2 linked regions of the Homo sapiens genome follow. The protein of the gene in region 1 purifies or fractionates together with the protein of each later gene. This does not show direct contact. Each region holds a gene or a part of one and is shown in the gene's direction. Other genes may lie near its edges.

The links.
Region 2: the proteins of ALG12 (region 1) and NUP35 purify together in Homo sapiens (affinity purification with mass spectrometry; one large-scale study listed by BioGRID and IntAct). This does not show direct contact.

The regions. Positions count from the first base shown.
Region 1 is NC_000022.11:49,908,350-49,912,166, reverse strand, and holds part of ALG12 (dol-P-Man:Man(7)GlcNAc(2)-PP-Dol alpha-1,6-mannosyltransferase), read left to right. Parts: intron 1-1,559; coding exon 1,560-1,733; intron 1,734-2,078; coding exon 2,079-2,273; intron 2,274-2,819; coding exon 2,820-2,923; intron 2,924-3,817. UniProt on the Homo sapiens protein: Mannosyltransferase that operates in the biosynthetic pathway of dolichol-linked oligosaccharides, the glycan precursors employed in protein asparagine (N)-glycosylation.
Region 2 is NC_000002.12:183,155,233-183,158,918, forward strand, and holds part of NUP35 (nucleoporin NUP35), read left to right. Parts: intron 1-2,211; coding exon 2,212-2,281; intron 2,282-3,050; coding exon 3,051-3,179; intron 3,180-3,686. UniProt on the Homo sapiens protein: Functions as a component of the nuclear pore complex (NPC).

The DNA.
Region 1 (3,817 bases):
CTGGGGCCGAGGGTGATCCCGGGGCCGAGGGTGATCCTGGGGCCAGGCTGATCCCGGGGCCGAGGGTGATCCCGGGGCCGAGGGTGATCCCGGGGCCAGGCTGATCCCGCGGCCGAGGCTGATCCCGGGGCCGAGGGTGATCCCGTGGCCGAGGCTGATCCCGGGGCCGAGGGTGATCCCGCAGCCGAGGCTGATCGTGAGGCCGAGGCTACCCTTGTTGGGCACGGGGTTGAGATTGTTGGGCATTTGGGAAGATGGAAAACCAAGAGAAGAGACGCAGGGGATGGACCTGATGGGGAAAAGGGGAAGCGGGGCTTTGCTGGGGTCTGTGAATTGTTTAAAAGCCCGGGGGAAATTCCAGCACCAAAAATACAGCAGCTGGAGCCAGACCCACTTGTGAGTATCAGTGAAAAATGTCCTATTAAGACATTCAGACTGGGCATGGTGGCTCACGCCTGTAATCCCAGCACTTTGGGAGGCCGAGGCGGGGGGATCACCTGAGGTCAGGAGTTTGAGACCATCCTGGCCAACATGGGAAACCTTGTCTCTACTAAAAATACAAAAATTAGCCGGGCGTGTTGGCATGCGCCTATAATCCCAGCTACTCCGGAGGCTGAGGTAGGAGAATTGCTTGAACCCGGAAGGCAGAGGTTGCAGTGAGCCGAGATTATGCCACTGCACTCCAGCCTGAGCAACAGAGGGAAACTCTGTCCTTAAAAAGAAAAAAAAAAAGACATTTGCAGTCCGAATCCAGCAATCAGTGAAAAGAAAATGCCTGGTATGCACATGGGGTATTCTGGGAACAGCAGGTCCAGCCCTCAGACATCCGTGGCCCCCTTGGCAGTGCCTGGGTATCTCTGCCCATTGGCCCCCACAGCTGCCTGGACCCAGTTGCTTCTCACATGGCTTCGAAGTTCCTCTGGCCTTCTGGAAAGGTAGCAAGAGCCACCCAGAAGTTCATTTTTCTTCCTGTTTTCAGTCTCTTGCCAGCGGCTGACAGGCCGGTCCACGGTGAGGATGTGTGGTCGGCTGGGTACTGTCCTGGGCACACCTGCCCCCTCACCACCTCCTCATCAGACCACCAGCCCAGAGGTGGCTCCTGCTGTCAAATGGGGAGAGGGGTCCTGACCCCCTTCCTGCCTGGGAGCCTGTGTTCCTGCCACATCCCACCTCCTCATGGCTGCTGGTTAGAGCAAGGTCTGAGCCCGGCCTTTGCAAACATTTCCCCTGGAGATGCCACAGCCCGGTGGGGTCTCTGGTTTAGTGTAGGGCTCAGCTCGTGGCACCCCCAAGTTGTGTGTCCTCCCTCATGCTTCAGAGAGCAGCCCCCGCAAGGGTCCTCAGTTCCCGACAGGAGCGCAGGGGGCCTGGGTCCAGTCGTCTGTTTTCAACATGGAGACGATGCCCTCAAGGCTGCTTTGCCTGACGTAGCCGTCAGCTGGCATTGCAGCAGCATAGAAAACTCCATATAGAAAGATCTGTGTAGAAGGACCCACGTAGGGGGCCCCACTGGATACTCCTCCACTGCAGGCTCAGGTGCTGTCACTGTCTTTGTTTAGTTAGAGGAGTGCTTGGACTCGGCGTGATTTTTGGACTCTGGACGTTACAAAAGGAAGTGAGACGGCACTTCGGGGCCATGGTGGCCACCATGTTCTGCTGGGTGACGGCCATGCAGTTCCACCTGATGTTCTACTGCACGCGGACACTGCCCAATGTGCTGGCCCTGCCTGTAGGTACGTAGCTGCCGGCCGGGCCTGCACACCCATGGTGCCGGGCAGGGGCTCCCCTGAGTCGGGCTGTGCAGCTGATGGCAGTGCCTCCCCCGTAATGGCCATTCCCCACTGGGTTCCTCAGGATGGTCTGTGACCTGAAACCAGGCTCTTTGTTTTCCATGCTGGGTTGGGACACACTTCCTGGCCAACAGCATAGGTGCGGGGAGCGGCTCTGAGCAGTTTCTTTTCTGGGATATTTGTGTGGCTTTTATAATAGGAAAAGGAATCACCCTTCACTTCCCCGGGTGTTTTCTGGGCCGGGTGGGCCCTGTGTCTTGACGAGCACCCTCCCGCACTGTCTTGCAGTCCTGCTGGCCCTCGCGGCCTGGCTGCGGCACGAGTGGGCCCGCTTCATCTGGCTGTCAGCCTTCGCCATCATCGTGTTCAGGGTGGAGCTGTGCCTGTTCCTGGGCCTCCTGCTGCTGCTGGCCTTGGGCAACCGAAAGGTTTCTGTAGTCAGAGCCCTTCGCCACGCCGTCCCGGCAGGGATCCTCTGTTTAGGTAAGTCAGTCACTGTGGGATGCTTCTAACTGGATTTTGTTTTGCCTTGTTTTACAAAGGTCAAGAGAAATTTGGGAGGTTTTCATCCCCATGAAATAAAATGACCCTAAATTTAGCAGTGTTGAAAACATTTCAATCCTAAGCCCCCTGCCCGGGGATCTCCAGGGGGACCCACCGTGCGCCTTAGGAGCCCCTGTTCACTGGTCTGTCCCTTGTCCTTGGGCTGGGGGAGGCCACAAGAGTGGAGGGCGGCTTGTCCCTGCGCCAGGCGGTGGTTCTGGGCAGTGGTGTCCTCGACACAGTTGGTGTCTTTTTTCTTTTTTTGTTTTAGAGATAGTCTTGCTCTGTCACCCAGGATGGAGTGCAGTGGCATGATCATGGCCCACTGCAACCTTGAACTCCTAGGCTCCAGCAATCTTCCCACCCTGCCCAACCTCTTTTATATGAAAGCAGCTTGTAGTTTCTGTAGTGATGGGGGCTGCATTGTGGCGGGATGTTTACTGATGGCTGTGTTTGCGACTAAGAAACTCTATTTTATTTTGTCAGGACTGACGGTTGCTGTGGACTCTTATTTTTGGCGGCAGCTCACTTGGCCGGAAGGAAAGGTGCTTTGGTACAACACTGTCCTGAACAAAAGCTCCAACTGGGGGGTATCCTTCAGTGTCCGTGCAGGAGGGCGATGGGTGGGACCTGCAGCCACATCTCCTGGGCCTCCATGGGCAGTGGAAGCAGCTGCTTCTCCCTTCTCTGCAGCGTGGCTGCAGGGTCAGGATGGAGCCCCTCCCTCCCACTTGCTCCTGGGAAATGCTGGCCATGGGAGGTGAGGTCCTGGCTGCCCTCTCTCAGCCAGGAAACAGCCTGAGGGCTGGAAACAGCCCTGCCCCAGATTACCCCAGCCTCTCCTCTGCTCCTCGGACAATCTGCTTTTTTTTTTTTTTTTTTGAGACTGAGTCTCGCTCTGTCGCCCAGGCTGGAGTACAGTGGTATGATCTTGGCTCACTGCAACCTCCACCTCCCTGGTTCAAGCAATTCTCCTGCCTCAGCCTCATGAGTAGCTGGGACTATAGGCGCACGCCACCACACCTGGCTAATTTTTGTATTTTTAGTAGAGGTGGGGTTTTACCATGTTGGTCAGGCTGATCTTGAACTCTTGAACTCAGGTGATCCACCTGCCTTGGCCTCCCAAAGTGCTGGGATTACAGGTGTGAGCCACCACGCCCGGCCCGGACAATCTGCATTTAAAAAGTGCTTTCTTAGGAATTATGTCAAACATACACGCATAGATGGAACAGCATAACGAATCCCAACATGTGTGTCACCCGTGACCGTCTGTTTTTTGTTTTTTGGTTTTTTTTTTTTTTTTTTTTGAGACAGAGTCTCACTCTGTCGCCAGGTTGGAGTACAGTGGCATGATCTCGGCTCACTGCAACCTCCAACTCCCTGGTTCAAGTGATTCTCCTGCCTCAGCCTCCTGAGTAGCTGGGATTACAGGCACATGCCACCATGCCCAGCTAATTTTTGTATTTGTAGTAGAGACAGGGTTT
Region 2 (3,686 bases), on another chromosome or scaffold:
GGAAGAAAGGTGCATAGTAAATGTTTAGTGGATTTTATGTATTCAATTTATTTAAAATTAAAAATTCAAAAGGTATGTAAGAATGTACAATGAAGTTTTCCCTTTTGCTTTTGTCCCAAGCTAGTTTTCCTCCTCTTTAAGGCAGTGATTGCCATCTGTTTTTTGTGTATGTTTCCAGAGAGATTTTATGTGTTATTGATTTCTATTTGGGTAAAAAGCGGGTCATTGCATTCCGTTGTTCTCTAGAAAGTCCATACTCAGTCCTATATCCATAGCAATTGGGCTGGTGTGTTTTTTTTCTTCTTCTTCTTTTACATTTACATTTTTATAGTCTCTCATAAAATGGCTTTTTTTTTTTTTTGAGACAATCTCTCTGTTATCTAGGCTGGAGTGCAGTGGCATGATCATAGCTCACTGCAGCCTCCAATTCCTGGCCTCAAGCAATCCTTCTACCTCAGCCTCATGAGTAGTTGGGATAACAGGCATGAGCCAGCTTGGCTGCATGTTTTTGAAAATAGGTACCCACTCTTAAATCTGTTTTTCAGGCTCAGTAGTAGTGGTTTAACTTTTAAGATTTCCAGTAATTAGATAAATTACTTGAAGCACTCCTAGTATTTTTTCGTATTTCAGACATTAACTCTCCCAGCTGTTTATTTTTTTACTTTCGTGTTTTAATAACCCTCTATGACTTTAATTTCAAGAACTGAAGCATTCTCCTTTAAGGGATAAAGTATTTTATTTTGATCATTTATGGGGAAGTACCTCTAAAGGATGCATTATATATGTTCTTTCTTTGGTAGTTTAACTTTTTCCTACTGACTTAGGGTTATGAAATATTCATTGTTTTGGGTGATTCTGCTATAGAGTACTAGAATGTAAGTTTCTACTCAAAGTGGTCCAAGAGTTTTAGAATTATGTTTTATTTCTTAAGTACTTCCCTCACTTGCAGCCATTCTTTCTTCTTTTCATTTTTGTTTGATCTCTGCCCTGTAGGCACCCAACCTATTTGTTGTTTTTCTTTGTGGTTAGAAATTTCATGTCCAGATTTTATACAAATGAATTTTCAGTTCTGATTGCAGTGAATATTTTACTCATATAGATTTTATTTAATTAATTAATTTATTTTGAGATGAGGTCTTACTCTGTCACCCGGCTGGAGTGCAGTGGCACGATCTTGGCGCATTGCAACCTTTCCTTCCCAGGTTCAAGCGATACTTCTGCCTCAGCCGCCTGAGTAGCTGGGATTACAGGTGCCCGCCACCATGCCCAGCTGATTTTTTGTATTTTTAGTAGAGGCGGGGTTTCACCAGGTTGGCCAGGCTGGTCTCGAACTCCTGACCTCAAGTGATCCACCCACCTCGGCCTCCCAAAGTGCTGGTTGGTATTACAGGTGTGAGCCATCGTGCCCAGCCTCACATAGATTTTTAATGTGTTTGGTTTCTGATTTATTTTTGAGACTCGAATTTTTTTTTTTCTTTAGGGTTCTAATTCAGTCTTCAGATAACTGAAGTTAGATAGCCATTTCTATGCGATTGGTAGTGGTTATTGTTTTCAAATTGAAAACAGCTTTATTGTTAAGACTATAAAAGAATAATATGTCATTGTAAAATATCCAAACCATACAGAACTTTATAAAGAAGAAAGTAAAAATTACTTAGAATTTTCTCATGCAGAGATATGGCTAATCAAATTTTGGTAACTGTCCTTTTAAGTGATTCTATACCATAAATATTTTGATGCTGAATTTTCTCTTTGTTATGATACTAAATTTCAGAATTTTTAAGTGATGCTCAATGTATAATGATTCGTTTATAATTTAAAATTCTTTATCTTTTCATAACCGTAGTATACCTAAATATATTACATATTAACATACACATATTGAAATAAATTATATATAGAACTGCAACTTTATAGTTTTTTTTCTAAGACCTGGATAATGGCAACGAGAGTAGCATTTTTAGAGATTTCAGAGGTAGAATCTGAGGATGGAGAAGAATGGCAGGATAAGACTAACTTTAAGGTATTTGCTTTTGAGTGACTAGTCACTGACAGAATTAGCCCATATCGGGGAAAACAGGATGATCAGCACTCTCCTGTTAACGTTCTAGACAGTTGGGGGCCATTTATCTTGAAACATTATCTTGTAGTAATTTGCATTCACATTGATAGTAGAAGCTGACGTTTTCTTTGGACAACTCTTTTTTTCAGGTTTCCTCAAGCATCTGCTTCCTACATATTACTACAATTTGCACAGTATGGGAATATCTTAAAACATGTGGTAAGGCTTAATTTTTTTCAGTTCAGAGTTTTGACTAAAGAGGGATAAGTTGTGAATTGAGAGAAACTGCTTCTGAATTTTGTGGGTTTTTTTTAAACTTAAATTTTTTTTTGAGTTTTGATATAATACATCCTTTGAAGTCTGGAAGGCTGGAAGTTGCCTAATTTTTGATAAAAAGAGATATAGTGAGAAGATATGGAGAATTGAGAGTTTGAAAATCCACCTCCTCTCACCTCCTTTCTTAAACAGTTTACAGTCTTAAAAAAGATAGATTATGCCAAGTATTATATTACTGTTTTCCAATTTGAGCTGCTTTTATTGGGGATAAAAGAAGTAGGAGGCAGTTCCTGAGCTTTTAGAGTTTTTAGAGCTTTATAGCTCTAAAATTTAAAAAATTATCTTACCTTGTGCTACAAGTTATAAGTAACAAATCCTTTTTTGTTGCTAGAGATTGACTTAACTCCTATACAAAATCAAATTGAGTAGTTTTAAATAACTTTATGGCAAGTGTTGCTTTGATCTCTTTACAATAAACATATTTTGAGAAGTATCTTACTTTCAGAGAATATGTACATGTTGATTGTAGAGAATTGAGAGATTGTTGAAGCTGTTCTAAATACGATTTTTGTTGAACTTTACAGCTTTTTACAAGGCATCAAATACGGAATGGAAGTAAATTTATCTTACCATGTTCCTATTTTCTAGTAGAATTCATTAGATGTAGATTTTATATATTTTCTATTTTAAGAGACAGTTTTATTCTTTGCAGATGTCTAATACAGGAAATTGGATGCATATTCGTTATCAATCTAAACTGCAGGCTCGGAAAGCCTTAAGCAAAGATGGGAGGATTTTTGGAGAATCCATCATGATTGGTGTAAAACCATGTATTGACAAAGTAAGTTATTGGTGATGTAGGCAAAGTAGCTTAATCTATATGAAGAGCACAAGACCAAGGATTGAAATTGGTCGTTGTGTCACTTGGTTTCACTGTGTCTGTTTTTCTTAGTTTGTAAAATGTGATGATGTTTATAGTACTCTTTGTGGTAAGCCGAAGGTATTTAATCATAGAGTTTAGAATTTAGAGGTAATCTGTCCTCACCTCTTCATTTTTCAGATAAAGAAACTGAGAGGGCTTAAGTAACTTGTCCAGAGTTGTTAAAGGTGAGGCCTAGATTTTAGGTCTCTTGACTACTAATCCATTCTCTTTCTTGTGCAAAGCGATACCAGATTCTTTAAAGTACTTAAATGGAATGGTACTATTTCAGAATGAATTAGTTCATATTAACATTAACTGATAGTTAACTTTTAAATGTCAAAGGTTTTCGTTTCAAAATATTTCTGTTTAAAACTATTTTAAAATTATTCTATATATACTCATTAAATAGTACAGAGTACAATTTAA